Linked DNA regions of Homo sapiens. The protein of the gene in region 1 purifies or fractionates together with the protein of each later gene. This does not show direct contact. Each region holds a gene or a part of one and is shown on either strand. Other genes may lie near its edges.

Region 1 (4,695 bases):
TTATAATCTAGTTTGATAAATGGTATACTCACTCATTAAAAGTTAAATATCAAAGTAAGAAGTGTCACTGCAGATGAATTGATTAAATGCCTTATCTATTCTATAATTTGTAGAAATTCCTAAAGAGGTTGTTAAGATGCCTAGAGATACTCTGAGGGTGCTGTTTGGTTCTCTTGTACCCTTACAGGGTAACTTGGCAGTTTCTTGTTCTCTATGTTGGGGGCCACTATTAGGTTTCTAAGAGGCACAGCAGTAGGGGGATTCTAGTAAATTTTGTCTTTTACTGCACAGTGTCTCATGGAGACAGAGTCTGCACAGTGGAAGGAACTTCAGAAATAATATATGGCCCAGGTTTTCACCGAAGGCAAACTCAACTTGGGGTGAATCTGGATGATGTTTTTTTTTTTTTTTTTGGTGGTATCATTTAAAAACAAGACATATACTTATATTCATTGGTTTTTGTTTGGAGGAGAAATTCTTTGACGTAGACTATATCTTTTTTTCTTTTTCTTTTTCTTTTTCTTTTTGAGATGGAGTCTCTCTGTTGTCCAGGCTGGAGCGCAGTGGCTCAATGGCACGATCTCGGCTCACTGCAATCCCTGCCTCAGCCTCCCGAGTAGTTGGGATTACAGGTGCCTGCCACCATGCCCGGCTAATTTTTTGTACTTTTAGTAGAGATGGGGTTTCACCATATTAGCCAGGATGGTCTTGATCTCCTGACCTCGTGATCCATCCGCCTTGGCCTCCCAAAGTGCTGGGATTACAGGTGTGGGCCACCACGCCTGGCCCTTTTTTTTTCTTTTTGTTATGTAAGTTAAACAGTTTTCATAATCTAAGGCGTATTATTATTACATTTTTTTGAGACAGAGTCATAGTCGTGCTCCATCACCCAGGCTGGAATGTCAAAATAGTTCGTTGTAACAATGCAAAAACAAGGGCCAGGCGCAGTGGCTCACGCTTGTAATCTCAGCACTTTGGGAGGCCGAGGTGGGCAGATCACAAGGTCAGGAGATCGAGACCATCCTGGCTAACATGGTGAAACCCTGTCTCTACTAAAAATACAAGAAATTAGCCGGGCGTGGTGGCGGCGCCTGTAGTCCCAGCTACAAAGCAAAAACACAATGCAAAAACGGACTAATACACTTGCTTTACTCCTGTTTTCTTATCACCTTCTTTTTATTTTTTTTTTTTGAAATGGAGTCTTGCTCTGTCTCCCAGGCTGGAGTGCAATGGCGCGATCTCGGCTCATTGAAACCTCAGCCTCCCACGTGTAAGCAGTTCTCCTGCCTCAGCCTCCTGAGTAGCTGGGATTAACATGTGTGCCACCACACCAGCCAATTTTTGTATTTTTAGTAGAGACGGGGTTTCACCATGTTGCCCAGGCTGGTCTCGAACCGCTGGTCTTAGACCCCTGACCTCAGGTGAGCCACTCACCTCAGCCTCCCAAAGGTACTGGGATTACAGGCATGAGCCACCATGCCTGGCCCTTTCTTTGTGTTTATTTCGTATGTTTGTGTATTTACTGGTTGAATATATTAGTCATGAATACTAATTAGTTTTAATATTTTCAAGGATTGGTTTTAATCCAGTTTTGTGGTCTTTCGTCTCACAGGTATTTTATGCATGGGGTTTGTAAGGAAGGAGACAACTGTCGCTACTCGCATGACCTCTCTGACAGTCCGTATAGTGTAGTGTGCAAGTATTTTCAGCGAGGGTACTGTATTTATGGAGACCGCTGCAGGTAAGAATTTGTTTATAAATTTGTTCAGGGGTGGGTTGGAGGAAAAAGGTAAAAGACATACTTCTGATAGCTTTATATGTCACTGATTAAAAATAATGCTTTGAAAATGACTCTTGGCTGGGCAGTGGCTCATGCCTATAATCCCAGCACTTTGGGATGCTTAGGTAGGAGGATTGCTTGATCTTGGAAGTTTGAGACCAGCCTGGGTAACCTAGTGAGACCTCATGTCTACAAAATATAGAAAAATTAGCTGGGCATGGTGGTGTGCGTCTGTAATCCCAGCTACTTCGGAGGCTGAAGCAGGAGAATTGCATGAACCCGGGAGGTGGATGTTGCACTGAGCCAAGAGCCCGCCACTGCGCTCCAGCCTGGGCAACAGAGCGAGACTCCACCTTAAAAAAAAATTGGGTAGGGCTTTTCTATCCTCCTAGTTCAGAAATGACTAGGTGTATTATCTGTGGATGTTAAACAAGTAACCCTCAAATTTATTTTTTATTTATTTTTTTGAGACAGGGTCTTACTGTGTTGCCCAGGCTGGAGTGCAGTGGTGTGGTCACTTCTCACTGCAGCCTCAACTTACCAGGCTGAAATGATCCTCTCACCTCAGCCTCCCAAGTAGCTGGGACCACAGGGATGCACCACCTCATTTATTTAGTTTTTTGTAGAGATGGGGGTCTTAATATGTTGCGTAGGCTGGTCTCAGATTCCTGGGCTCAAGCAATCTTCCTGCCTTGGCCTCCGAAAAGTGTTGGGATTACAAGCATGAGCCCCAGAAACTGGCCCATCCCCAAATTTAGTAGGTTAAAACAGTGAACATTTATTATCTCAGTTTCTGGGGTTCCGGATTCTGTGAGTGCCTTAGCTGGATGGTTCTATCTCAGAGACACTTATGAGATGGCAGTCAAAATTTTAGCAAGTCATCTGAAGACTTGATGGGGACTCCAGGATATTTTTTGTGTGTGTGAGACCGAGTCTTGTCCCTCTGTTGCCCAGGCTGGAGTGCAGTGGCAAGATCTCGGCTCACTGCAACCTCTGCCTCCCAGATTCAAGCAATTCTCCTGCCTCAGTTTCCCAAGTAGATGGGATTACATCTGCGTGCCACTATGCCCGGCTAATTTTTTATATTTTTGGCAGAGACAGGGTTTCATCATGTTGGCCAGGCTAGTCTCGAACTCCTGACCTCAAGTGATCTGCCCACCTCGGCCTCCCAGAGTGCTGGGATTACAGGTGTGAGACACAGTGCCCAGCCAGCATTGTTTTTTGTTTGTTTGTTTGGGTTTTTTTGTTTGTTTTGTTTAGGATGGAGTCTTGCTCTTGTCGCCCAGGCTGGAGTGCAGTGGCGCAATTTCGGCTCACTGCAACCTCCGCCTCCTGGGTTCAAGCGATTCTCCTGCCTCATCTTCCGGAGTAGCTGGGATTACAGGCGCCCGCCACCACACCTAGCTAATTTTTGTATTTTTAGTAGAGACGGAGTTTCACCATGTTGGCCAGGCTGGTCTCGAACTCCTGACCTCAGGTGATCCACGCGGTTCGGCTTCCCAAAGTGCTGAGATTACAGCCGTGAGCCATGGTGCCTAGCCCAGTATTGTTTTTAAGAGGTCTTACTCTCATGACTGTTGGCAGGAGACTTTGGTTTCTCACCACTTGGCCTTTTTTTTTTTTCAAGACGGAGTTTTGCTGGTCACCCAGGCTGGAGTGCAATGGCATGATCTCAGCTCACTGCAACCTCTGCCTCCCGCGTTCGAGAGATTCTCCTGCCTTGGCCTCCAGAGTAGCTAGGATTACAAGCATGCACCACCACACCTGGCTAATTTTTTTTTTTTTTTTTTTTTTTTTGAGACAGAGCCTAGCTCTGTCGCCAGGCTGGAGTTCAGTGGCACAGCCTCAGCTCACTGCAACCTCCACCTCCCAGGTTCAAGTGATTCTCCTGCCTCAGCCTCCCGAGTAGCTGGGATTACAGGCATGCACCGCCACACTCAGCTAATTTTTGTATTTTTAGTAGAGATGGGGTTTCACCTTGTTGAAAGGATGGTCTTGATCTCCTGACCAGCCCACACCAGCCTCCCAAAGTGCTGGGATTGTAGGCATGAGCCACCGCGCCCGGCCCACACCCCACTAACTTTTGTATTTTTAGTAGAGACGGGGTTTCACTATGTTGGCCAGGCTGGTCTCAAATTCCTGAGCTCAGGCAGTCCACCTGCCTTTGCCTCCCAAAGCGCTGGGATTACAGGCGTGAGCCACCCCGCCTGGCCCACATGGGCCTTTTCATAGGGATACTTTAGTATCCTTGCAGCTTGGCAGCTAGCTTTCCCCAGAGCAAACAATTTAACAGAGGAGGCAAGGAAAAGCCACAATGCCTTTTATGACCTAGTGTCAGAAGTCATATACTGTTATTTCCACTGATTCTGGACTAAGTTACTAAGTCCAGCCCACATGTAAAGGGAGAGGATTGGGCTCTACCTTTTGAAGGAAGGCATATCAAAGAGTTTTGTATGTACTTTAAACCACTACCCTCGGTAAGACTTTTGACAGTGTCATAGTAAATTTTTTTTTTTTTTTGAGATGGAGTCTCGCTGTCACCCAGGCTGGAGTGCGGTGGTGGGATCTCAGCTCACTGCAAGCTCCGCCTCCCGGGTTCACGCCATTCTCCTGCCTCAGCCTCCTGAGTAGCTGGGACTACAGGCGCCCGCCACCACGCCTGGCTAATTTTTTGTATTTTTAGTATAGACGGGGTTTCACTGTGTTAGCCAGGGTGGTCTTGATCTCCTGACCTCGTGATCCGCCAGCCTCAGCCTCCCAAAGTGCTGAGATTACAGGCGTGAGCCACTGTGCCATAGTCATAGTCAATTTTAATGTCATTATCAGAAAATGTAGTGTGAGCCACTGGGTTCAAATAGAGTTCAGAACCTGACATTATTGATGGTGTGGGATATTAATGTTAAGTCATCCCACAT
Region 2 (4,695 bases), on another chromosome or scaffold:
TCTGCTGACCCACCCACTGTCTATAGTGGGACCTGAACTGGAGTAAGCAATCTTAATAGCTGTTACTGAGCACCCATTCTCTTTTCTGGGAGGTGGGCAGGGTGGGAGGAGGAGGAGGAGCAGCCGGCCTGAAACTACAAAACCTCTTTAAGATGGAGAGCTTGGCAGATGGGAGTTCCCCTGTTTGCAAAACCCAAGACAGCTCAAAGGGAGTAATTAGGGTGTTGGGGCCACTGGAGGTTCAGCAGGTGCCTCAGTCCAGACTCAAAAACCTCCCTGGCTGGTCCAGAGTGATCTAAGGGAGTGGCCAGGAGAGAGGATGGCCTTACCTTGCCTGGGATTCAAGAAAGGAAGTAAGTTTTGGTACCTCGCTGGTGAAAACATGGGAAACAGCACATCAATGTGAAGGGAGAAGGTGATGGGATTTAAATTAGAACATGGGCAGGGTACTTCTCTCTGCTCTCACTTTGTGACCTTAGATTGTTTGTCTAACCTGTTTTCCTTATTCACAGAATGGGGCTAATCCCGGTGCTGAGGTTGTTTAGAGCGTCAAATTGCTGTTGAGTATGGGGCAGTACAGTTCATGAATTGAAAAAGTCCTGCTGGGCGCGGGGGTTCACACCTGTAATCCTAGCACTTTGGAAGGCCGAGGCGGGCGGATCATGAGGTCAGGAGTTTTAAGACCAATCTGGCCAGCATAGTGAAACCTCGTCTCTACTAAAAATACAAAAAAATTAGCCAGGCATGGTGGCGTGTGCCTGTAGTCCCAGCTACTCAGGAGGCTGAGGCAGGAGAATTGCTCGAACCGGGGAGGCGGAGGTTGCAGTGAGCTGAGATCGTGCCACTGCACTCCAGCCTGGGTGACAAGAGCAAGACTCCATCTCAAAACAAAACAAAAAAACCAAAAAAACCTCCTACACAGAGGTAAGATGTAAGTTTTTTTTTTTATTTCAGAAGATTGCATTCCAAAGCCAGATATTGGTAATTACTCACTCTGAGGGTTTATCTGTGCCTTTCCGGAACTGAGTGGATAATCAGGAGTTAGCTGAATTTTCAACAAGGGCTATTTGTGGTAGTTACCAGGGGCAAGTGGCCAACTTCACATGGCTAATAGCCTGGGATGTCTTCCTGAAGGATGTTCCCAGAATCAAGGACAGTCCTAGTGTGGCACCTTTTTTTTCTTGGCTGAACCTTTAGACTGGCAAAGCCCTAGGTGTGGGGAGGGGAGGATTGTGGGTCTTCATAGATGAATTTTGTAAAGCCAGCTTGGTAGATCTGTCATATATGGCATGGGACTTCTCCATCTCAGTTTGATGTGCTGTTAGTAAACCTAGATGATTCCTCCATGACAGGCCTTGTTTACAGGCCACTTTGTAATTATTCTCCAAACTAGTGGTAACCACCTTACTCTCAAGACATACATTCCAGCCACTCAAAGTTGCCTTTTTCTTTGCCTTAGAATGGAGTTGCAAGCTTCTCAGAGGAAATTAAGTCCCACAGTAGCCAGGAGCCATCTAGATAAATGATCTGATAGAGATAGGGCTCTGTATGGTTTTTGCTCTGCTTTTCACTTAAACTAATTTATTTAGGCTCTTGATAATTCAGAGATAAGTAATAGTACTGGAATAGTCACCATTTACTGCATTTACTGAGTGTCTCACCTGTTCTAGCCCAAGTGATCTGCTGAGCAGATGCTTTTTTTTTTTTTTTTTTCTTTTTTTGAGAAAGAGTTTCTCTCGTTGCCCAGGCTGGAGTGCAGTGCACGATCTCAGCTCACCGCAACCTATGCCTCCTGGGTTCAAGCGATTCTCCTGCCTCAGCCTCCCAAGTAGCTGGGATTACAGCCATGCACCACCACGCCTGGCTAATTTTTTGTATTTTTACTAGAGATGGGGTTTCTTCATGTTGGTCGGGTTGGTCTCGAACTCCTGACCTCAGGTGATCTGCCCACTTCGGCCTCCCAAAGTGCTGGGATTACAGATGTTAGCCACCGCGCCTGGCCCAGCAGATGCTCTTTTTATTCCCACTTCACAGATGAGGAAAGTGAGACTCAGGAGACGTTTAGCAACTCTGTCCTTCTAATTGCTCAGACTAAAGACCTTAAGATCATCCTTGCCACCTCTGTTTTTTTTTTTCTGGCTGGTTGCAGTGGCTCACACCTGTAATCCCAGCACTTTGGGAGACCGAGATGGTAGGATCATGTGAGCCCAGGAGTTCAAGGCTGCAAGTGAGCTGTGATTGTGCCACAGTACTCCAGCCTGGGCGACAGAGTGAGACCCTGTCTCTAAAAAGTAAATGTCTTTTTGTGACCCCACATGTAATGTACTAGTACATCCTTTGACAATTAAACACTGTGTCCTGGCCGGGCACAGTGCCTCATGCCTGTAACCCCAGCACTTTGGGTGGGAGGCCAAGGTGGGCAGATTGCTTGAGCCTGGAAGTTTGAGACCAGTCTGGGTAACATAGGGATACCCCATCTCTTACAAAAAAAAAAAAGTACAAAAATTAGTCGAGCATGGTGGTGCGTGCCTGTAATCCCAGCTCCTGGGGAGGCTGAGGTGGGAGGATCACTTGAGCCTTGGGAGGTAAAGGCTGCAGTGAAAGATGAGTGTGTCACTGCACTCCAGCCTGGGCAACAGAGCAGGACTGTCTCAAAAAGAAAAAGCTGCCTGGGTGCGGTGGTTCACGCCTGTAATCCCAGCACTTTGGGAGGCCGAGGCAGGTGGATCACCTGAGGTCAGGAGTTCAAGACCAGCCTGGCCAACACAGTGAAACCCTGCCTCTACTAAACATACAAAAATTAGCTGGGCGTGGTGGCATGCGCCTGTAATCCCCAGCTACTCGGGAGGCTGAGGCAGGAGAATCGCTTGAACCTGGGAGGCAGAGGTTGCAGTGAGCTGAGATTGCACCATTGCACTCCAGCCTGGGTGACAGAGCAAGACTTCATCTCAAAAAAAAAAAAAAAGCTGCATCCAGGTTGGGTGTGGGGGCTTATACCAGTCATCCCAGCACTTTGGGAGGATCACTTGAGCGCAGGAGTTCAAGACCAGCCTGGGCAACATAGTGAGAGACCCCATCTCTTTAAAAAAAAATTAACTGGGTGTGGTGGTGCATTCCTGTGGTCTGAGCTACTCTGGAGGCTGAGGTGGAAGGATTGCTTGAGCCCAGGAGGTCGAGGCTATATTGAGCAAGAGCCACTGCACTCCAGCCTAGGCAATGCAGTGAGACCATGTCTCAAAAAAAAAAAAAAAAAAAAAAAAACTGGCTGGGCGTAGTGGCTCACACCTGTAATCCCAGCACTTTGGGAGGCCGAGGCGGGAGGGTCAGTTGAAGTCAGGAGTTTGAGACCAGCCTAGCCAACATGGTGAAACCCAGTCTCTACCAAAAATACAAAAAGTAGCTGGGCGTCATCGTGCACACCTGTAATCCCAGCTACTTGGGAAGCTGAGGCACAAGAATCGCTTGAACCTGGGAGGCAGAGGTTGCAGTGAGCCGAGATCATGCCACTGCTCTCCAGCCTGGGCAACAGAGCAAGACTCCATCACAAAAAAAAAAAAAAAGAAACAACAAAAAAAACCTATGTCCAGATCTAAATGCTTGTACCGCCTCGTCTCTTGCTGGCCTGGACCATACATCATCATTTCTCATGTAGATTTTTGCAGCAGCCTCTTAACTGGTCTCCTATCACTCCTACTTAAAGCCCTCTGGTAACTTCTTAGCAGAGTAAAATTCAGAGTCCTTAGAGTGTTCTCTAAGACCGCACTTGATCTGGTCTCTGTCCACCTAACCTCTGACCTCATCTTTCATCACTTGCCCCTTCTTCACTCATTCCCTTCCAGCATCAGTCCTCACTTCCTGAAACATGTCATGTACTCTTTGCTTTGGGTCTTATGTTCTGTAGTGCTCTTCCCGCAGATCACTGTGGTGGAAATGCCTTCCCAGACCACCCTATATAGACTAGCAAGTCCTGACCTTGGATTCCCTCTCTCCATCCCTCTTACCCTGCTTCATTTTTCTTCTTAGTTCTCCCCACTGCCCCCCGCCGCCCCAAGGCAGGGTCTGAGTCTGTCATCCAGCCTGCAGTGCAGCAGTGCAATCACGGCTCACTGCAGACTCAACCTCCCAGGCTCAAGTGATCCTTCCACCTCAGCCTCCAGAGTAGTAGCTGAGACTACAGGCACACGTCACCACGCCTGGCCAGTTTTTTAATTTTTTGTAGGAATGGGGTCTCACTATGTTGCCCAGGCTGGTCTTAAACTCCTAGGCTCAAGCAGTCCTCCCACCTCGGTTTCCCAAAGTGCCAGGATTACAAGCATGAGCCACGGCACCTGGCTATTTTTCTTCTTAGCTCTTATCACCACTGGGTCAGGGACTTCGATACCTGATTACGTTTGTATTCCCAGTACCTGCAGCAGTGCCTGGCACAATGTAATAGGCAGCTTGGTGAACATTTAGTGAAAGAATGAATTGCGTATTTTTAATGGCATTCATTCATTACATTTTGAGTGCTTACCATGTGTCAGACATAGGGGATACTGCAGTGCATAATAAAAAGTCTCTGCAAGAAACACATGCACTCAAAATTCAGTATGGAATATGTTGTGTAGGGAATCCCAAAGTATGGAATTCTTTGGCAGTGTAGCAGGGGCACCCAATTCAGTATAGGTCAGAGAAGTCTTCTAGAAATGGGAAGGA
Region 3 (3,369 bases), on another chromosome or scaffold:
TACTTAGATGTTCCCAAATGACATTGATTTTGCCTGCACTAGCCCTGAAAATTAGTCACTTCTCCAAGGAGCCCCAGTTTTCAAGATGTGGGTGCTAAGCATGCTCATTGTTAGCAAGTAGGTTATCATTGCCTGTAGGCCCTCTCAGCAAATAAAGTTAGGAAATACATGTATGGATACTAATGATGCTTATATACACAACTGTATTTCTGTATCTGTCTTATCCTTCCTCACTATCCATCATTTATCCATCTTTCCTAAAAACCATGAGTTTATACTGTTATCTCTGATTCTAGTTCAATACTACAGGGTTAATTTTTTTTTTTTTTTCTTTTTTTGAGATGGAGTCTCGCTCTGTCGCCCAGGCTAGAGTGCAGTGGCGCCATCTCCGCTCACTGCAAGCTCTGCTTCCCGGGTTCACGCCATTCTCCTGCCTCAGCCTCCTGAGTAGCTGGGACTACAGGCACCCGCCACCACACTCGTCTAATTTTTTATATTTTTAGTAGAGATGGGGTCTCACCGTGTTAGCCAGGATGGTCTTGATCTCCTGACCTCGTGATCCGCCCGCCTCGGCCTCTCAAAGTGCTGGGATTACAGGCGTGAGCCATCATGCCCGGCCACTACAGGGTTCATTTTAGCCTTCCCACTTAGTATTATTTTTGAGACAGGTTCTCTGTCTCCCAGGCTGGAGTGCGGTGGCTCTGTCACAGCTCACTGCAGTCTCGACTTCCCAGGCTCAAGCGATCCTCCTACCTCAGTTTCTGAATAGCTGAGACCATAAGTGTATGCCACCATGCCCAGCAAATTTTTTTTTTATTTGTAGAGACAGGGTCTCCCTATGTTGCCCTGGCTGGTCTCGAACTCCTGGGTTCAAGCGATTCTCCTGCTTTGGCTTCCCAAAGTGCTGGGATTACAGACACTAGCCACTGCACCCGGCCTTCCCCCCCCCCCCCCGCTTTTTTTTTTTTTTTTTTGAGACGGAGTCTTGCTCTGTTGCCCAGGCTGAGTGCAGTGGTGCGATCTCGGCTCACTGCAAGCTCCGCCTCCCGGGTTCATGCCATTCTCCTGCCTCAGCCTCCCGAGTAGCTGGAACTACAGGTGCCTGCCACCATGCCTGGCTAATTTTTTGTATTTTTAGTAGAGACGGGGTTTCACCATGTTAGCCAGGATGGTCTCGATCTCCTGACCTCGTGATCTGTCCACCTCGGCCCCCCAAAGTGTTGGGATTACAGGCGTGAGCCACTGTGCCCGCCGCACTTTTTTTTCTGAATAGGAAAAAGGGTTAAAAACAAAAGAAGAAAATAGGGCTAGGTGTGGTAGCTCACGCCTGTAATCTCAGCACTTTGTGGCCAAGGCAGGAGGACTGCTTGAGTCCAGGAGTGTGAGATCAGACTAGGCAATATAGTGAGACCCCGTTTTTATCAAAAATAAAAAAATTAGCCAGACATGGTACCAGGCACCTGTGGTCCCAGCTACTCAGGAGGCAGAGGTAGGATTGCTTGAGCCCAGGAGGTTGACATTGCAGCGAGCCAAGATAATGATCATGCCCCCTGTACTCTAGCCTGGGCAGCGGACTGAGACCCTTCCTCAAAAAACCAACCAAAGAAAGAAAAAACTTGTTTCTGATCCTAAGAGTACTGAGAGAGTGAAGTCCTTTATTGACCTTCAGATCCTTACATATAAAACAACTATATTCCACATGTAAGTGCTAATTTCCACCACAGTCAAAACATTATGCTTTGGCAGTTACTTTAACTGGTAAAGATGACTTTTGTAAAAAGTTAAACACTGTCCTTTTTCAAACTTTGTAGATTTATATATAGCTCTTTCCTTCTATGGTGGCAAAACATTGTTCAAAACCTTCAGAACTTTAAATTTACCAGGGAATTAAAAAGGGGAGAAAAATGTCTCAGATAAGAAACATATCGAAGCAAACAGGATTTTATTTGCTCTTATTTTACTGTTTTTTTTTTTTTCTTTAATTATTGCACAACTATCTTTTTGGTTTTTTTGAGATAGGGTCTTGTTCTGTTGCCGCCCAGGCTGGAGTCCAGTGGCGTAATCGTGGTTCACTGCAGCCTTGAACTCCTGGGCTCAAGCGATCCTCCCACCTTAGCCTTTTAAATAGCTGGGACTACAGGTGCAAACCACCATGCCTGGCTAATTTTTTCTATTTTTCTAGAGCTAGGGTTTCTCCATGCTGCCCAGACTGGTACAACTCTCTTAATAATAGAAAACTTTCATCTTCAGGCCTAATTAATTATAACATTTATCCCTTTTCCATTTCCTTCATGTCCTTGACCACACTGATCCCTTACTCTGTGCTTTGTGTTTTTTGTGTGTGTGTGTGTTTTTTTTTTTTTTGAGACTGAGAGAGACTCAGTCGCCCAGGCTGGAGTGCAGTGGCGCGATCTTGGCTCACTGCAACCTCCGCCTCCCAGGTTCAAGCGATTCTCCTGCCTCAGCCTCCCAAGTAGCTGGGACTATAGGTGCGCGCTACCACGCCCAGCTAATTTTTTTGTATTTTTAGTAGAGATGGGGTTTCACCATGTTGGCCAGGATGGTCTCGATCTCTTGACCTCATGATCCGCCCGCCTGGGCCTCCCAAATGCTGGAATTACAGGTGTGAGCCACCACGCCTGGCCTAATTTTTGTATTTTTAGTAGAGACAGGGTTTCACCATATTAGCCATGCTGGTCTCGAACTCCTGACCTCGTGATCCGCCCGCCTCAGCCTCCCAAAGTGCTGGAATTAGAGGCATGAGCCACCGTGCCCGGCCTGGAATATAGATTTTTTAAAGAGGTTTTGACTCAATGATAATATAACAACAATATGGCCACCTTTTTTACTCTTGGTACATAGTTCTTAGTCTCTGTGAGGCAGGTCTCGGTGTCTTATTCACCAGTTTTCATCTCTAGCACAACATATTCTTAAGTTTGGAGGCCCATGGATATAAATTACCTTCACATATTCCAGTAAATCGGGAGGACATATCAATTACAGTTTCTGGTTAGGGAGGAAGATTTTCCTGGCATGGCTGAAGAGGGAGGCCCTAATTTCTTGTCAGTACCCACTGATGGTTTCAGGAAACCCAGCAAAAACAGGTATTCTCTAACAGTCTATAAGTGATATTGTATCTGTAAGAATCAGTCTGAAATTTTCAGGGTATTTCTCTATGAAGATTAAAGACGGATTTTTTTTTTTTTTTTTGAGGCGGAGTTTCGCTCGTTGCCCAACCTGGAGTGCAACGGCATGATCTTGGCTCACTGCAACCTCCGCCTCCCGGGTTCAAGCCATTCTTCTGCCTCAGCCTCCCGAGTAGTTGGGATTACAGGCACCCGCCACCATGCCCAGCTAATTTTTGTATTT
Region 4 (3,500 bases), on another chromosome or scaffold:
CTTACATATAACCTATATAGGCACATCCTCCTGTATATTTTAAATCATCTCTCGATTACTTATAATATCTCATACAACATAGGTCTTATGTAAATTGTTACACCGTATTGTTTAGGGAATAATGACAAGAAAAGTCTGTACAGTGTTTAGTACAGATACAGTTTTTTTTTTTTTACCCCCCCGAATATTGTCGATCCACAGATGCAGAACCCACGGTTACAGAAGGGTGACTGTATAATGTGAAACACATAAGTAATTTAAAATTTACTAGGAGTCACATTTTTTAAAAGTTAAAAACTAGTGAGATATTTTATGTTCTTTTTTTTTTTTTTACTAAATTTTCAAAATCTGGTGTGTTTTAAACTTGCAGCACATGTCATTTTAGAGTAACTACATTTTAAGTGTTCAGTAGACACGTGCTTTGGGTTTCTGGAACAGTGGTCAGGAAACTCAGGATGATGTTCTGTGGCAGTCATATAGATGGAAGAGTGAGGAACTACAGGAAAGGGGAATGGAGATAATAACTTAGAACATTTACTGAGCATTTAAGATGTGTCATGCACTGTGTTAAGTGCTTTATGTTGATGAAATCGGTTGTCACAACCACCCTGGGGTAAGTACCATTATTCCCATGTTACAGATGAGAAAACTCAGCCTCACAGAGCATAGACAGCTTCCCTAAAATTACACAACTGAAATGGTAGTGTATGGATTCCAGGCTAGTTCTGTGTGTTGTTAAGCATTCTGCTACACTGCTTTGGTATGTGCAGCAGAGTCCTGGAAGTAAGTCCGTGGAAGGCAGAAACAAGGTTTATATGAGCCGTTGTGGCCAGAGATTGACATTTGGATGTATACCACAGTTCCTGTCAGGTTGTGAATCTACAAGTCCAGAATTCAAAACGACTTGGATAAGTCATCCATCTGGGGCTGTGAACAGACCACTGCCCATGCAATAATAAATAGACCCTTAATGTGGGGATTAGGGGCATTGGTCCCCTGTGCAGTCGAAAATCCATGTATAATTTTGAACTCCCCCCAAACTTAAACGCTAATAGCCTATTATTGGCTGGATGCCTTACAGATAACATAAGCAGTCTATTAGCACATATTTTGTATTATATACTTTATTCTTACAGTAACATAAGCTAGAGAAAAAATGTTATTAAGAAAATTGTAAGGAACAGAAAATATATTTACTATTCATTAAATGGAAGTGGATCATCATAAATGTGTTCATCTTCATCTTGACTTTCAGTAGGCTGAGTAGAAAGAGGAGGGGTTGGTCTTGCTGTCTCAGGGTGGCTGAGGTGGAAGAAATTCTGTGTATAAGTGGACCCCTACCTTCAAATTTGTGTTAAAGGGTCAACTGTATATCCATTACCCCCAAAAAGATACCCTGGGTTTTTTTTGTTGTCCCTCCCTCCCTCCCTCAGTTCTTGTTCCTCCTCAGGCAACCACTGATAGGCTTTCTATCACTATAGATTAATTTGCATTTTCTTGCTTTCTTTTTTTTTTTTTTTTTGAGACGGAGTCTCGCTCTGTCACCCAGGCTGGAGTGCAGTGGCCCAATCTCGGCTCACTGCAACCTCCGCCTCCTGGGTTCAAGTGATTCTCCTGCCTCAGCTTCCCGAATAGCTGGGATTACAGGCACTTGCCACCACATCTGGCTAATTTTTGTATTTTTAGCAGAGACGGGGTTTCACTATGTTGGTCAGGCTGGTCGCAAACTCCTGCCCTCATGACCTGCCTGCTTCGGCCTCCCAAAGTGCTGGGATTACAGGTGTGAGCCACTGTCCCCGGCCTAATTTGCGTTTTCTAGAATTTTATATAATGAAATCATATAATATGTACTGGAGGGGGTGGTATCTGAGTCTTTGACTCAGCATAATTTGAGATTACGCCATGTTATTACAATTACTAGCAGTTCATTCCTTTTTAGTGATGAATAGTATTCCAATGTGTGGGTAGAGCAGTTTGTTCATCTATTGATGGACATTTGTGCTTTTTCTTGTTTTTGGCTATTACAAATATAGTTATTGTAAATACTATTGTACCAGTCTTTGTATGGATATGTGCTTTAATTTCTATTGGATAAATACCTAGGTGTGGAATGGCTAGGTCTTGTGGTAAATGTAACTTTTAAAGAGTTTTCCAAAGTGATTATACCATTTTACGTTGTCACTAGGTGGTATGAGTTCAAGTTGGTCCATATTCTTGTCAATAACTAGGTATGCTCAGTCTTTAATTTTATTTTAGACTTTTAAAATTTTACTATTATTTCCTTGTCATTTGAATTTGCATTTCCCTAGTGACTAGCAATGTAGAGCATTTTAGCATATGCTTATTTGTCTGTTTGATTATTTTGCCCATTTTTAAAATAGGGATGTTCTGTTGTAGAGTTTTGGGAGTTCATTGTGTATTCTAGATACATGTCCTTTATCAGATGTGAGATTTGCAAATTTTTCTCCCAGTTTGTGGCTTATCTTTTCGTTCTCTTAACAGTGTTTTTCAAAGAGCAGAAAGTCTTTATTTTGATGAAATCCAAATTAGCCTTGTCTTTTATGAATTTATGCTTTTGGTGCCGTTGGTGTTTTATCTAAGAACCTTTTGCCTAATTCAAGATCACAAAGATTTCTCCTGTGTTTTGTTCTAGAAGTGTTAATAGTCTTAGGTTTTATGTTTTGGTCTCTGATCCTTATTGAGTTAACTTTTATTTAGAGTGAGAAGTATGGATCAAAGTTTGTGGGTTTTTCTGCATATGGCTAATTATTTCAGCACCATTTGTAGAAAAACTATTCTTTCTCCACTGAGTTGACTTTGCATCTTTGTTGAAAGTCTGTGACCATATAGGTGTGGGTCTTTCTCTGGAGTCTTTTTGTTTTCCATTGATCTGTTTGTCTAGTCTTTATGTCAGTTTCTTATTCTCTTGGTTATAATAGCTTTATAATAAGTCTTAAAATCAGGTAGTATGAGTCCTCTAACTTTGTTCTTTTTAAAAGTTATTTTGACTGTTGTAGGCCTTTGCCCTTCCATATGGATTTTAGAATCCGTTATATCAGTTTCTACAAAAAAAGTAAGCTGATATCTGGATTGGGATTCTGTTGATTACAGAGCAAATTGAGGATAGATGACGTCTTAACAATATTTAATTTTCCAGTCTATGAATATGGTATCTCTCCATTTCTTTAGATCTTTAACTTTTCTTAGCAATGTTTTAAAATTTTCAGTATATAGATTTTTCACATCTTATGTTAGATTTATCCTTAAGCATTTTATATTTTTGATTCTATTGTAAATGGTAATTTAAAATTTTTTATTTCCGATTGTTTGTCGCCAATAAGTAGAAATATGATGGATTTTTGTATATTGATCTTGTGTCCTGCAACTTAGTTCCACCAAGTAGTTTTCTGAGGATTCCATGGTATTTTCTGCAAAGATGATCATTATCCAGTCTTGGATGCCTTTTGTTTTTCTTGTTGTATTGCAGTGGCTAACACCTT
Region 5 (5,436 bases), on another chromosome or scaffold:
GAGAACTCATTAAGGAAGTGGGTCATTTCAAACGCTTTTATTTACTTGTGATGACAATTAAATAAAGAACAAACTCGTCATCTTTCTTTGATGAAAAAATTGTTTGATATTCTGAGAACAAAAGTGATGCCATACTGCCATTAAGAAACTGATTCAGACTCGATCTCTCAACAAGGTAAGACATCAATGTTCCCATCAAGAGCTGCCCATAATACTGCAGTACACTTCTCTGGCACCATTAAAAAAAAAATCTCTTAGAGATGATCCTGAAATCTCTTCTAAAGACATGAAAGAGGTGTGCTTGTATAATCTGGTATTACAAAGAAATGAGAAATTGCCCTGATGACGAATCTCCAGCTCTAATCTCAATTTGCTGAAGTAGAGAGGCAATTCATCTTACCCATTAACTAAGAATTAGAAAAACAATTTGTGTTTTTCTTTGAGTCATTTAACTCAAATACCACTATATAAAGGAATAGAATGAGACATTCGCATGAATTTGAAAGGTAAATAAAACATCAGACTTCAAAGAAATTCCATTAGAATCGGGGGTTACTTTTTTGTTTTCTTTTCCTCCACCTCCACCTTAAGGAACATGAACGGCATTTGGCCACAGTTTATGTCTTTCCAATTTTATCTTCCACCATCTACCGCTCAGTTCTCCTCACTTCCAGCCAAACAATGTATGTTCCCCAAACACGCCTTCACAATTTCGTTCTAGTTGGTGTCTACCTCTAGTATATGTGTAGTCAATTTATACACACATTCCCCACGATCTTGAAACGTCTTGACATCCACAAGCAAATCTAGGTTTCTAACATAACACTAACTTTGTAAGTCTGTCCATATAAGGTTTTAGCAAACCTAGTAAAACAGAAAACGCACTATTATCCAGGCTTATATTCTGAGATTTGAAAAACCCCTCTATCTGCTACCTTTGGGTTTCTGAATTTACATACCACTCTCAAGTATACAGTATTCACGATTTCTAAGAACTGGAGAGTAAACCTAGTCCTCTAACAATGGCATTTTATTTGTTGAGTTAGGGCACTACCTGCCCACGATGAGGATAGTTAATGAAACGCTGCCCGGTAACGACGATTAAAGGCTTTGATTGAAAACGTATTAGGCCTTAAGAATTTTGCGAACATCTAATTTAACCCTAGTAACTGTGGCGTGGGTTCTTTCAGAATTTACACGCACGTGGGAGACCGCGAAGCGCAGGCAGCGTTAAAACTAGGGCGCTGGAGTCACCCCCGTACCCCGAATGCCGTCGGCGCTCCAGGGCCCCCAGAGGGTGCGGGGGGCGGGGACGCTGTGACGTCACAGAGCGCCCTTCTGACGTTCTCACGGACCCGCTTTGCCTCGGGGGCCCACGCTGGAGCCCACCCAGTACTACTAAGAAATGAGGAGGAAAAAGGGGCGCCGGCTCTCGTAGCGCCTATTTTCTCGGCAGAGGGACCCACGTGCTCGCTTTGGTGGACTCTGCGCCCGGCGAGTACCGCCGGCCTGAAGCTTCCCGCCGCCGCGTCCACGCGACCCAGCCAGAGAGGGCTCAGTCAGCCGGCGCGGCACCTACAAGCTCAGTCGGGATCCTGGAGAGGCGGGAAGGCAGCGGGGCCCTTTCCACAGAGAGAACACAGCTCTTCGGGAGATTCCCCCGCTGCCCCCGAGCCCTGCTCTCCCGCCTCGGCCTCTGAGGACTACCCGCAGGGCGCAGGCAGCCGCGAAAGACTCAGCCTCCTTCCAACTTCGCGAGGGCCGAGGGGGCGGGCCCCGGGCGCGCGCGCGGCGAAGCCCCGCCCCTGCCCGCGCGGCCTGCTGGATTCGCCCCGCCCCTCGCTGTCGCCCGCCGCCCGCCACCCGCCACCGCTCTTCCTCCTGCGCCACAGTCCCGGCGGCGGCGCTGGTCGCGGGTCGCACCGTGAGGCTCGCGTGGGCGGCGATAGGCGCTGGGCCCGGGCCCGGTGAGGAGCGCGCCGCGCGTCCCCTTCTCCTCAGGAGTGGCGGGCCGCGGAAGTGACGTGGTGCACGGGCAGGAGCGCGTTTGAATCGGTTCCCGGGTGATCCTCGCGCCTGCCGCTGCTCGGCCGCCGCCGCTGACGAGGAGCTGCAGCGCGCCGGGCCGAGGCCTCGAGCCGCCCCGGGAGCTGGAGCTGAAGGCGCCGCGCGGAGCGCGCACCTCAGCCCTGAGCCCGGCGGCGGCAGGCGTCGCTGTCTTTTCTCCTTTTCCCCAATATGGCAGCGGCGGACGGCGGCGGGCCTGGTGGGGCCTCTGTGGGGACTGAGGAGGATGGCGGAGGCGTCGGCCACAGGACGGTGTACTTGTTTGATCGGCGCGAAAAGGAGTCCGAGCTCGGGGACCGGCCTCTGCAGGTCGGGGAGCGCTCGGACTACGCGGGATTTCGCGCGTGTGTGTGTCAGGTACGCGAAGGGGCGAGGAAGGGATGCGCGTGTAGACTTGGGGGCGGGAGGGTGATGAGAAACTCAACTTGCTCACTGAGGGCAATAAACCTGTCACCCGGTCCCGGTCCTGCGGCCTTGGCTTCCCTCTCCCGTGTGCCCGCCATGTCCGTGACCTGGTGGCCGGACGCCTCGGGCGGGCCCTGGCCCGGGCCTCGAAGTGCAGGGCCGGCTCCCCCGTGGCCCTCCCTCTGCCTCCGCTCCTTTTACGGGAGGCCTTGCCGGCCCGGGTGGAGAGCTCAGCGTTTGTTGGCCCTGGGCGAGCTTAGCCCGGTTGCGGCCCTGCAGTCTAGGGAAAGCCGTTGGTGGTGTCTGTTTTTACTTTGTAACTTTTTTAAAACGAGAGAAGGGAGTTAACGCCCAGGGGCTCTGTTGTGAGTGTTGCGACGGTGGGAAGTTGTGAAATGCCCGGAGTCATCTCCCCCAAGTTCATTAGATGATGCGGGGTGTCCCCGGGTTGCCCTGTCGAGGTTGCAGGTCCTTCTGGGGCGGGGCGGCGGGGGGGATCCTTCCGCACGGAGACACTTGTCCAGGTCAGCTCTGCAGGTAGAGCTGGCCTTCTGCCTGTCTGAGCCCTAACCCTTGGGAATTTCCAAACCAAGTCAAAGGTTGGTATGGGTGGCTGTGGAGCACCAGAAAACGTACCTACCCCGTGTATTGGTTCGCTTTGAAAATGAACGTGGAGGGAAATCCGCTTTAAACTGTGATGTACTTTATAGATATGAGGTGGTGGCATTGCCTGAGCTTTGAAGAAGGAATATTGTCATGCTCTGAATTAACCATATGAGGTCCCTTTTTAAGCTGTTAAGAACACTTAGCGTCCAAGGGAAAAAAAGAACTTTGAAGCCGTGTTTTGTCGTGAGGCTGATAGGTTTAGAAATGTTCTAGACCATATAACTGTATGGTTGCTGAAATAATTGAAATCGTGATCCGTAGAATGAAAACGATTGGAGAAGTAAGGACTTTCTTTTGTTCACAGCTGTAGTCCCAGCGTCTAGAACTGTGCCTGCGACATTGTAAATGCCCAGATTAGAATGGATAAATGAATGAAGACAAAAACCTATCCCCTCAAGTTAATTCTGTGCCTGAACGTAGTAGATTCCCGTTGTGTTTGAAAAGTGAATGAATGCTCATCTTTTTTGTTGAATGCTTTCTATTCAGAACCATTCTACAAAAGGGAAACTTTTTACGTTTATTGTGTTTATAGTAAAAATATCAGTACATTAAAGAAAATATGGAACCAGAGGGGGGAAACAAGTAAATCTTTTACTCGCTGTAAAACTACTATATGACTACTCTTAGCACCTGAGGTTATGTCTTTTCAGCCTTCCTCCTCCTTCCCACTCCATTTTTTAAATTACTAAAATATGTGTTTTATATTCTATTAATTTTTTCACTTAATAGTGTCAGAAGTTTCTTTAAACGTAGGTCTTCAAATCAAAATTTGAAATGGTCCATTTGCTACCACTATTTACATAACCGAATCTCTCCTTTCTGTTGACATTTACATTACTTTTAATTTTTTTGATTTTAAGTAATGCTGTAATAAACATTTTCCCAGGCCCAAATATTCCCGGGCTCAGGTGATCCTCCCACCTCAGCCTCCCAAGTAGCCAGGACTACAGGTGAGCGCCACCATGCCCAGCTATGTTTTTTTTTTTTCGTATTTTTCGTACATACGGGGGTTTGGCTGTGTTGCCCAGGCTAGTCTCGAGCTCCTGGGCTCAAGAGATCCACCCGCCTCCCAAAGTGCTGGGATTACTGGCGTGAGCCACTGCACCCAGTGGAAAAACATCTTTGAATACATAGCCGTTTATGTCTTTTATTATTGTTTGCTTAGTTTGAAATCTTAGAACTGGATCAAAGATGAGATACATCTTTAAAGCTCTTGTTTCGTATTTTAAAATTGCTTTTTGAAAATGTTTTGCTACTTTACCCTTCCTCTAGAAATGCACTATTTCCCTCTCGTGAGATGTCTCAGTAACTCTTAGATAAATAGAGGAAGTATTATTGGCCTTTTATTACAGAAGTATAAACACAGTCGTGGAAATGGTGACTCATTACTCAGATAGTAAAGCTCAAGTTAGTATTCAAACCCAGAACCTCTGTTCATTCTGTTATACTACTCAAATGGCATTCTTTGCTGTAGGGAACAGATGTATTTATTCCTTCCTTCAATATTTCAACTGGAAAACCAAGGAAAATATTTCTTTTAACTAATTCTGTTCCTCCTTCCTCCCACTTTATCCTGCTAGAAAACGTTTTAAATTTAGTTAGAAATGAGAGGGACCAACTAGTAAGAAAAAAGAAGGCTGAGAAGGCTAACTTTTTTGTTGTTAGACTTCTTTTAAGCATTATTAGATTGTGCCTCGGATCCCATAACTTTGTCTCCATTACGTACTCGAAGAACTGAATTAAGTCAGTGAATTAATAATCTGAGATTACATGGTCAACAAGCAGTGAAACTGGGATTGGAATTTAGGTCAATTTGATTCCAAAGCTTATGTATACATATACATATATATGTGTGTGTGTATATATATGTATATGTATATATACATATATATACACACATACACACATATATACACATATATACGTGTATACGCATATATACATATATACACATATATACACATATATATACACACACATATATATATTTTTTACACTACTCCACACTATTTATTAGAACCATCACTTTTGTCCTTAGGGGAAGAGACAAAATAATATACTAAAGTTTTTGTTAAAATGTAAATTAAACCAATAAATGTTTGTAGTGTCAGGCAGTATTATGGGTGATCCTAAACTGTTACTTATTTATTTATTTTTTTTGAGACGGAGTCTCGCTCTGTTGCCCGGGCTGGAGTGCAGTGGTGCCATCTTGGCTTACTGCAACCTCTGCCACCCAGGTTCAAGTGATTCTCCTGCCTCGGCCTCTTGAGTAGCTGGGATTACAGGTGCCTGCCACCA
Region 6 (4,695 bases), about 120 Mb from region 1:
TTTTGTATTTTTCTAGAGACGGGGTTTTACCATGTTGGCCAGTCTAGTCTAGAACTCCTGACCTCAGGTGATCCGCCCGCCACAGGCTCCTAAAGTGCTGGGATTATAGGCGTGAGCCACCACACCTGGCCTGGAATAGCATTTGCTTTAGAATATTCTCTGTCTCTCTCTCTCTCTCTGGCCTGGAATAGCATTTGCTTTAGAATATTCTCTCTCTCTTTTTTTATTTTTTATTTTTATTTTTTTTTTTGTCCATAGTCCCTAAGCCCTTTCTGGGCTGAAACCTAGACCACCGGGCTTTCCCAAGCCCACTCTGGGTGTTCCTGGGCCTCCGTCCTTTTGAGGAAACAGTGGGTACCTTGCAAATGGGAGCTCTTGCAATCAATATCGCAGAACCTTGGGATCTTTCCTCTGTCTCAGTTCTAGTTGCTCATTTTCTGTGAGCATTTGCATTACAACGCTTCTTATTTATTCACTTGTCCATTTAACAAATATTTACTGAATTTCTTTTGTGCTAAGTGCTAGGAATATAGTGATGAGCAAGACAGACAAGATCCCTTCCTTATGAATCTTACATTCTTGAGGGAGGAAAACAATAAGTGATGCAAATAAACTAAGATAATTTCAGATAATGATATTTTCTATAAAGAAACCACAAAGTATTAAGCCCTTAATCAGCTTAAGTATTAGTACTTGAGTATTAATCCATTCCAAATTGAACCTAATGCCTGTTGCCCTAAAGCAGTGGTTCTTAAAATGTGGATTCCTGAATATAGTTGTCAGATAAAATATGGGACATCCGGTTAAATTTAAATTTCAGATAAACAGTGTTTTTAGTATGTGTACATGCCATGTAATATTTGGGGCACATTTATACTAAAAAAAGTATTTATTGTATATCTGAAATTCAAATTTAACTGGGCATCCTGTATTTTTATTTGCTAAGTCTGGCAACTTTATCCCTGAGGCCCTTTTAGGAGTTGCCTGAGTTCAAAAATATTTTCTGATAATACTAAGTGATTAATTGCCATTTTTCACTGTGTTGACATTTGCACTGTTGGTGCAGCAGCATTGAGGAGTAGAACTACTTGTATCTTAGCAAGAATCAAGGCAGAGGCAATAAATTACTAGTAGATGTCACAATAAAAAAATGTTTAATGCCATTTGAACTTAAGAACTTCCTTTATGAAGAGATAAAAATTATTAATTTTGTTAACCCTTGACCCTGAGTACGCACCTTTTTAGTATTCTGTGTGACAAAATGGGAAGCACACAAAAAGTGTGTCTGCCCCATGCCCAAGTGTGATGAACAATCTTGTGTAATTGTTCAAGTTGGACTGAGCTAGCCACTTTTTTCAAAGACAATATTTATTTGAAAGGAATGACAACTATGGTTATTTAGAAGAAAACAGTTGATAGTGTTTATTGCCAATGAAAAAAATTAAAACTTTCAAGCAAAAATTGAAATTACGGAAAACTTTGTCATCGTGAGCATGATGGCTTCTCAGTACTTAAAATCTCTTCTGATTAAATGGATGGCAACATTCACAAATGTGAGGGCCACACGCAGCAGCTCATGCCTGTCATCCCAGTGCTTTGGGAGGCTGCGGTGGGAGAATGGCTTGAAGCCAGGGGTTTGAGACCACCTGGACAATATAGCAAGACCTTGTCTCTACAAAAAATACAAAAATTAGCCTGAGTATGATGGCATATGCCAAGACTCTTAGCTACTCTGGAGGCTGAGGTGGGGGGATCACTTGAGTTCAAGAGTTCAAAGTTATGGTGAGCTCTGATGGTGCCACCACACTCCAGCCTGGGTGACAGAGCGAGACCCTGTCTCTTTAAAAAATTTTTTTGGCTGTGCACGGTGGCTCACACCTGTAATCCCAGCACTTTGGGAGGCCGAGGTGGGTGGATCATGAGGTCAGGAGATGGAGACCATCCTGGCTAACACGATGAAACCCCATCTCTACTAAAAAATACAAAAAATTAGCCAGACATGGTGGTATGCGCCCGTAGTCCTAGCTACTTGGGAGGCTGAGGCAGGAGAATGGCATGAACCTGGGAGGCGGAGCTTGCAGTGAGCCAAGATTGTGCCACTGCACTCCAGCCTGGGTGACAGAGTGAGACTCTGTCTCAAAAAAAAAAAAAAAAATTTTTTTGATGTTGTATAATAACGTGCCAATGTTTAGAAGTTCTGCATAACTCAGTGAACTGGCATTTTTCAAATGACTTATATGTGATATTACAAAATTATGCATGGCTGAAAGTCCATTCTACATGCATGATAAACCAGTGAATGTTAATATAATGCCACAAAAAGTTCATTAGTATGGCTTGAGTCTATGTTATAGTTAACCTTTAAAAAACTACCACTTGTTAAGTTTTGGTGTAGTATCAAAGAAAAATGTCCACAGTTATTTGAAAAAGCCATTTAAGTCTTCCTTTTCCAATACGTGTCTGTGTGAATGCCCATTTTCTTCATACACTTCAGTCAGAACAACATATTGCAACAGAATGAATGCAGAAGCATATGTAAGAATCCAGCAGTCTTCTATTAAGCCAAACATTAAGAGATGTATAAACATAAAGCAAGGCTATTCATCTTACTAAATTTTCATTTTTTGTTTTGGAAAATAGCTTTTTCATTTATGTAGATAAGTAATTGTTTTCTTACTTTTAAATGAATTAATACTAAGTTTCTCAGTTTTCATTTCAAATGTGGTAATTATCAATGTAAGTAACCCTTGTAAACAAACATTCTTTGGGGTCCTTAATGATTTTTAAGAATGTAAAGGAGTACTGAGACCAAAAGTTTGAGTACTTCTGTCCTTAGGCATCCATTGTATTAATAAATTAACTTTTTCCATGCAGCTATAATAGAATGATACTACTTTTGTCAATTTTGGCTTTTGTTGCCATTGCTTTTGGTGTTTTAGACATGAAGTCCTTGCCCATACATATGTAACAAACCTGCACATTGTGCACATGTACCCTAAAACTTAAAGTATAATAAAAAATAAAAATAAAAAATTAAAAAAAGAATGATACTACTTTTGCCCCATTTTGCAAGACTTGAGAAAATTATCACTCAAATCATTTTCTGTGTTCTGTGGTTTGGATGAGGAATTCTGGTTGAGCACAGCTGGAAGGAATAGGCAATTAGGGGAACAATATTTCTTTAGATAGAGTGGTTATCTATTCCTGGGAGACAGTATTGGAAATGAGTCCTGAATAAAGAGAGGGTATCAGTTATGGGAAGATTTGGGGAAAACATTCCTGGCAGTAGGACTAGCTATTGCAAAGGCCCTGAGGTAAGAACAAGGTTGGCAGTGTTTACAGACTAGTGGGGCCTGAATTACTGGAGGAGAGTAAACAAGGGAAAGTAATATGACAGTAAGGCCAGAGAGATAGCCAGGGGCCAGATCATGTTGGGCCTAATTGCACTGGGCAGGCAGCCATGAAGAACTTTAAGCAAAAGAGGGACGTGATCTGATTAGAAAAAGCTAACTCAGCATGCTGTGTGAGGGGGGAGAAAGGTCTGTTGGGAGCCGTGGCAAAAGTAGAGATAGGGAGACAAGTTAGAAGACATTGCTGCTTGTGACTAGAGTTCATAGCAGTGAAGACAGAATTGGTCATATTTGGGTTCTCTGTTGGAGCTTGAACTGGCAGGATGCTGATTAACTAGATATAGGGAAAGAGAAATCCAAGGTGATTCCTAGGGTTTTTTGGCCTGAGAGGTCAGTAAAGATGGGGAAGACAAGTCATTAGAAGGAATCCAGGGAAACATTTAGTCTTTCCTTTACTCTGAAGCAGGTGTCCTTGGAGTTAATAATAACTGGATTACAAGGAATTCTTTGTAGAAAATATCTTGAACATTTTTTGCCTTTCTTAGTAAGTTTGCCCAATTATAAAAGTTACAGCTTTTGGGCCAGATGTGGTGGCTCATGCTTGTAATCCTAGCACTTTGGGAGGCTGAGGCAGGTGGATCACTTGAGCCCAAGAATTTGAGACCAACCTGGGCAACTTGGCGAAACCCTGTCTCTACCAGGGTGTGGTGGCACATTCCTATAGTCCCAGCTACTCAGGAGGTTGAGATGGGAGGATCACTGGAGCCTAGGAAGTCAAGGCGGCAGTGAGCCACTGCACTCCAGCCTGGGTGACAGGAATGAGACTGTGTCTCAAAAATAAAAAACAAGTTACAGCTTTTGCTTTAGAAAACTTGGAAAGTACAGAAATATATAAATAAAATAAAAATAACCTGATATCACAGAGGTAACTACTACATTTTAGTATATTTCTTTCGAAACATATACACACACAAACATATTTCTTGTTTATGTATACAATTGACCCTTGAACAACATAAAGTTTAGCGGCACTGATCCTCTGTGCAGTCAAAAATCCACGTATAAGCTTTGACTCCCCAAAAGCTTAACTACTAATAACGTACTGTAAGAGAAAAGAAAATGTTAAGAAAATCATAACGGATCAGGCGCGGTGGCTCACGCCTGTAATCTCGGCACTTTGGGAGGCTGAGGCGGGTGGATCACAAGGTCAGGAGTTCGAGACCAACCTGGCCAATGTGGTGAAACCCCATCTCTACTAAAAATACAAAAAAAATTAGCCGGGCTTGGTGGTGCATGCCTGTAATCCCAACTACTGTGGAGGCTGAGGCAGGAGAATTGCCTGAAC
Region 7 (4,695 bases), on another chromosome or scaffold:
GTAGGCTGCTGCTGAAGGGGTCCCGGGTGAGGCAGGAAACGACCACCAGTAGTGGGTGCAGGCAACGGAAGATGGCAGCCAACACAATGGCCTTGGCCAACCGGGGGTCGGTGGAGATGTGAGCCAGGCGCTGCCCCAGGGTAGTCAGGTACTCCCGCTGGTCCAGCACCCCTGCAACGGCTCAGCTGTCAGTACCACCCTCGAGAGCCACTCCCCAGCCCAGCCCAGCCCAGCCCCTACATACCGATCTCCTGGAGCAAGATCACAGCCTCGTCCACTGCCTTGATGTTTGGACTGTCCACAGCCTTGGACAGGAACTCCACCGCCTATGACAGAGCCAGAGCCCGCCATGAGCCTGCCTCCCACCTGCCTGGTCCCCAGGCCAGCCCCTGCCCCGCCCCGCCGCACCGTCTTCTCAGGCATGTGGATTTTCGCTTGCAGCACCAGGTTCTCAAGAGGTGTGCGCAGGATCTCTGGCACTTGGAAAGGGACCATTTTCTCCAGCCGGCTTCGAGGGAACAAGTGGTAGGCAAAGCCGGACTGGCAGCGGCCCGCCCGGCCCCGGCGCTGGATCACATTGGCTCTTGATACCCACACTGTCTCCAGGCAGGACACCTGGAGGAGGTGGCAAGTAAGCAGCACACAAATGCCACTTCCTCAGTGCTTCCCCACTCCCTGAGTAACCCTCACCAGCCCCCTACATCAGGAACACTGAGACCCCACAAGCGCGGCCTTCTGAAGACACACAAAGCAGGTCTAAGGTAGATCTGGGCTGGGGACCACCTCAAAACGGAGTCCCTCCCCCAGTGGTTGGCCGGGCCCAGGAGGTAGGTGCCACCTTGGTCTTCAGGTCATAGCGTTCTTCCTTGTGCAGCCCACTGTCCACCACATGCACGATGTCATTGATTGTGATGGAAGTCTCAGCAATGTTGGTGGCCAAGACAATCTTGCGCACCCCAACTGGAGGCTGCTGGAATATGGCCTTCTGATCCATCATGGGGATGTTGGAGTGCACTGGTGGGCAAGACACACACCAGTTATGGGCACTGCTTCCACCAGAATTCCCCCCTGGAATGTGGGCAGGGCAAGGATTTTGACCCCATTTTGATGAAACAGGCGCAGATAAACACTATGCCCAGTGAAAAGTGCCACAGCTTGGTCAGAAACCGGGGCCCCTGGAGTCCCAGTTGGGTCAGTCCCTAGGACAGAGGTCAGGCTGGTTTCCAAAGGTCCCTGGTCCCTCCGCCGGGGCTCTCACCTGGCAGGATGAGGTACTTGCTCTCGTGCATGCCCAGGGCCTCCTGGAGGCGCTGCTGCACTCCTTTGATCTCCTGCCACCCAGGCAGGAAGCACAGGATCCCACCTGTAAAGGAGCCCTGGGGCATGAGCCAGCTGTTGCTGCAAACGTGGCCAGGGCTAGCATGGGACAGATGGGGAGGCACCCACCTGGTTCCCCGCGAGCATCGATGTGCAGAACCAGATCAGTCACAAGGTCCAAATCGAGTGCGCATTCATCCTCAGACTGGGGTGGGGGAAGAGAGGCCACAGTCACAGCCCCGGGGTAAGGGGTCATGCCAAGGACACAGCCACCTGACTCAGTGAGACGGAGCCGCTTGACATCAACTCCAATCCTCACGTGTGCCACGCAGGCAGGGTTAGTCCCCAGTTTCTATCAAGGAAACCGAGGACTGGGGAGGGTAACTTGCCCCAGGCACCAAGCCCCAGGGCCAGGGAGGAGGGGCATCCACGGAGGAAAGGCCAGGAGCCTTGGGTGGGATGGGGGTGTCCCTCACCTCATGGTGCCGGTGCCGGTGCAGGTACTGGTGCTTGCCCAACTTGGCCAGGATGTCCTCTAGGTAGTGCTCCTTGACTGGGTACATGAAGCCAGGCACCTTGATGACGGGGCAGCCACCAAAGTATCGGGAGAAGCGCTCATTGTCCCCTGTGGCACTCATGAGCACCAGCCGCAGGGCCGGGTTGAGCCGCTGCAGGCCCTTGAGCAGGATCAGCAGAAAGTCTGTGTTCACGTCCCGCTCATGCACCTCATCCACGATGACGTGGCTCACGCCCTCCAGGCTGGGGTTGCTCTGCAGCTTACGCAGCAGGATACCCACAGTGCAGAAGAGCAGGGCCCCGCCTCGGGATGGGGGCTTACTTTCCAACCGCACCTGGAAGCCCACATTCCGGCGCAGGGAGGGGCCCAGTTCGTGGCTGACCCGCTGTGCCACAGACACAGCAGAGATGCGGCGAGGTTGGGTGATGATAACATTGCAGCGGGCACCTCGGCCCTCGGTCACATAGCGCTCCAGCAACAGCTGGGGGATGCGCGTGGTCTTCCCACAGCCCGTGTCCCCAGAGATGACCACCACCGGGTGCTGCTCAATGGCGTTGAGGATGGTGTCCCGATGTGGGTCCACAGGTAGCTGGGGGGCCTCCTGCCAGACCGGCCCTCGCCGCCGCCACAGTTCTAGCAGACTCTGGCTGAGACGTACCTCCTCTGCTTCCAACAGGGGCACATAGGGCTTGCCTGTGATAGGGTCACTCAGAGGCCCTGAGTCCTTGCCCAAGGGCAAGATGTCATCACTCTGCAGCCGGAGTTCTGGGGCGATCCATGAACTCTCCACAGGGTACTGGAGGGCAGGGAGGCAAGCAAAACAATGAAAAAGAAATTCCTCATTCACACACAACCAGCCACTCTGCAGGATTCGCCTGGGTCAGATGTTGTGGCCCAACCCGCTGGGCAGAGGATTAATTTAGTCCATGACTGCCCCGGGATCCTTGTGGGCAAGACTGGGCTGTTCAGGCCAGGGGGATCCCAGGCCCCAAACTCAGTGAAGAGAATGGGGAGGTACTACTGCCTGTCGCAGGTGGAGGCCTTCAGTCTGGAGAGATGGAGGCAGACTACAGGGAGCAGGGGTGGTGAGGGATGCAGGGCCTCTTACATGGTTCAGGAAGGTCTCTATCTTGCGGAGGATGGGCTCGGGCACCTGGATGGTGCATGGTCGGCGCTGGGTCTCACCCAGCTCACGCAAAGAGGCCAGGTTATACATGGCGTGTGTAAGCGGTTCGTTGTTCCTGTCCACCAGGCCCAGGCTCTGCAGGGGGACATGCAAGACTCAGTCTATGCTCTGGGGCTCCCCAAAAACCAGCCCAGACAAGCTCAGGAGCTCCAACGCATAAGTTGTGCCAAGTAATCTCTAAGAGATTTTGGATTTTGGCTGACATGGTGATGGAGGGAGAAATTATGAACTAGGAAAATGTTAACTTACCAAAATAAACGTTTTAAAAAATGAACTAAAGTTAATTCAGGCCGGGCGCGGTGGCTCACGCCTGTAATCCCAGCACTTTGGGAGGCCGAGGCAGGCAAATCACCTGAGGTCAGGGGTTCGAGACCAGCCTGGCTAACATGGTGAAACCCCATCTCTACTAAAAATACAAAAATTAGCCAGGTGGGGGGCCGGCACCTATAGTCCCAGCTACTAGGGAGGCTGAGGCACGAGAATCGCCTGAACCCTGGAGACACAGGTTGCAGTGAGCCGAGATCATGACGGTGCACTCCAGCCTGGGCGACAGAGCGAGACTCTGTCTCAAAGAAAATAATAATAAAGTTAATTCAAGAAAAGCTAAACCTGATGTGTCACAGCAGAACAGCCCTACGTCTGGAGAAGGCCCTGAGGAGAAACCACTCACTGTGTGGCTACAGCCCCCCCAACACCACAATAGGCCACTGTCACCTCTGTGAATTCCCAACATGTACCCTCAGACCAGCCAGGCCAGGCCCTCGATGCTAGAACGCACCCCACAGACTCCCTCTTCCTTTGCTGCCTCATCAAAGCCTTCCTCCCCTAATCCTTCCATCCCGCCTCCCAATCCCTACATGGCACCCGACCCATCTGTGACCCCATCATATACAGATGCACGTGGAATTTCCTGTAAATGTCGATTATAATGCAACTTGATCAAACAAGCCACTGGAAGGAAAACACTGTGTCTTACCTCCCTACATACCTAAAGCCACCTCACCAGAGATAAAACATAGCATTCCAATACCTCACGCACATGGGTAAAACTAGTCTTGTGTTCCTGTCACCTCTAATGGCTGGACTCTGCTCACCCTTCGGAGCCCAGATCAAACACTCCCTCCTTAAAGAAGTCTTCCCCCAACAGGGGCCAACCCCCTGCCTCTGGGCGTGCTGGCACCATCAGCTATAAGGACCTAAAGGACAGGAATCTGGTCCTCATACCACAGGAGGTGCCAACACAAGCTCCTTGCTGCAGGAACAGGCTTCTGCCCTCTCCCCAGACTTCATGGGTTTTACCCACCAGCCTCACTGACAAATGGCCCTCCAGCCACTGCAAAGCTTGCTCCTTCCCAGACAGGCCCCTACCATGCCAAGGTGCTTCTGCTCACAGTGCGTGTGCATCAGGCCAAAGCTCAGATGCCTCCAGTTCTACTCAGTCCTTGTTCTGCCCTCGAGTCACAGGTAGCATATCTGTGCCCTCTTTATCTCACCAATTGCCTGTCCCCTCTTCCTCGTCTTTCTCCAGGTTCTTGTTACCTCTCACCATCAGCTGTAACTAAAACATGGTTCCCAGAGCCAACTGTACCCATGAAATGGTGCACCTGACCATTCAGAGTAAAGCAGGCCCATTTCTATCTTGGTCTGCAAACTAAACCTCCACCAACATGGGTTG

Evidence for each region.
Region 2: the proteins of MKRN1 (region 1) and LARP1 purify together in Homo sapiens (affinity purification with mass spectrometry, with the first as the bait; 2 studies listed by BioGRID). This does not show direct contact.
Region 3: the proteins of MKRN1 (region 1) and DRG1 purify together in Homo sapiens (affinity purification with mass spectrometry, with the first as the bait; one large-scale study listed by BioGRID). This does not show direct contact.
Region 4: the proteins of MKRN1 (region 1) and DDX24 purify together in Homo sapiens (affinity purification with mass spectrometry, with the first as the bait; one large-scale study listed by BioGRID). This does not show direct contact.
Region 5: the proteins of MKRN1 (region 1) and SMCHD1 purify together in Homo sapiens (affinity purification with mass spectrometry, with the first as the bait; one large-scale study listed by BioGRID). This does not show direct contact.
Region 6: the proteins of MKRN1 (region 1) and NUP42 purify together in Homo sapiens (affinity purification with mass spectrometry; one large-scale study listed by BioGRID and IntAct). This does not show direct contact.
Region 7: the proteins of MKRN1 (region 1) and DHX30 purify together in Homo sapiens (affinity purification with mass spectrometry, with the first as the bait; one large-scale study listed by BioGRID). This does not show direct contact.

Annotation. Positions count from the first base shown.
Region 1 is NC_000007.14:140,468,929-140,473,623, reverse strand, and holds part of MKRN1 (E3 ubiquitin-protein ligase makorin-1), read left to right. Parts: intron 1-1,612; coding exon 1,613-1,741; intron 1,742-4,695. UniProt on the Homo sapiens protein: E3 ubiquitin ligase catalyzing the covalent attachment of ubiquitin moieties onto substrate proteins. These substrates include FILIP1, p53/TP53, CDKN1A and TERT.
Region 2 is NC_000005.10:154,761,360-154,766,054, forward strand, and holds part of LARP1 (la-related protein 1), read left to right. Parts: intron 1-4,695. UniProt on the Homo sapiens protein: RNA-binding protein that regulates the translation of specific target mRNA species downstream of the mTORC1 complex, in function of growth signals and nutrient availability.
Region 3 is NC_000022.11:31,430,080-31,433,448, forward strand, and holds part of DRG1 (developmentally-regulated GTP-binding protein 1), read left to right. Parts: intron 1-3,369. UniProt on the Homo sapiens protein: Catalyzes the conversion of GTP to GDP through hydrolysis of the gamma-phosphate bond in GTP. Appears to have an intrinsic GTPase activity that is stimulated by ZC3H15/DFRP1 binding likely by increasing the affinity for the potassium ions.
Region 4 is NC_000014.9:94,074,703-94,078,202, reverse strand, and holds part of DDX24 (ATP-dependent RNA helicase DDX24), read left to right. Parts: intron 1-3,500. UniProt on the Homo sapiens protein: ATP-dependent RNA helicase that plays a role in various aspects of RNA metabolism including pre-mRNA splicing and is thereby involved in different biological processes such as cell cycle regulation or innate immunity.
Region 5 is NC_000018.10:2,653,838-2,659,273, forward strand, and holds the start of SMCHD1 (structural maintenance of chromosomes flexible hinge domain-containing protein 1), read left to right. Parts: upstream 1-1,888; 5' UTR 1,889-2,238; coding exon 2,239-2,424; intron 2,425-5,436. UniProt on the Homo sapiens protein: Non-canonical member of the structural maintenance of chromosomes (SMC) protein family that plays a key role in epigenetic silencing by regulating chromatin architecture.
Region 6 is NC_000007.14:23,187,775-23,192,469, forward strand, and holds part of NUP42 (nucleoporin NUP42), read left to right. Parts: intron 1-4,695.
Region 7 is NC_000003.12:47,844,100-47,848,794, reverse strand, and holds part of DHX30 (ATP-dependent RNA helicase DHX30), read right to left. Parts: intron 3,096-4,695; coding exon 2,943-3,095; intron 2,631-2,942; coding exon 1,794-2,630; intron 1,523-1,793; coding exon 1,447-1,522; intron 1,364-1,446; coding exon 1,259-1,363; intron 1,015-1,258; coding exon 839-1,014; intron 616-838; coding exon 409-615; intron 327-408; coding exon 245-326; intron 172-244; coding exon 1-171.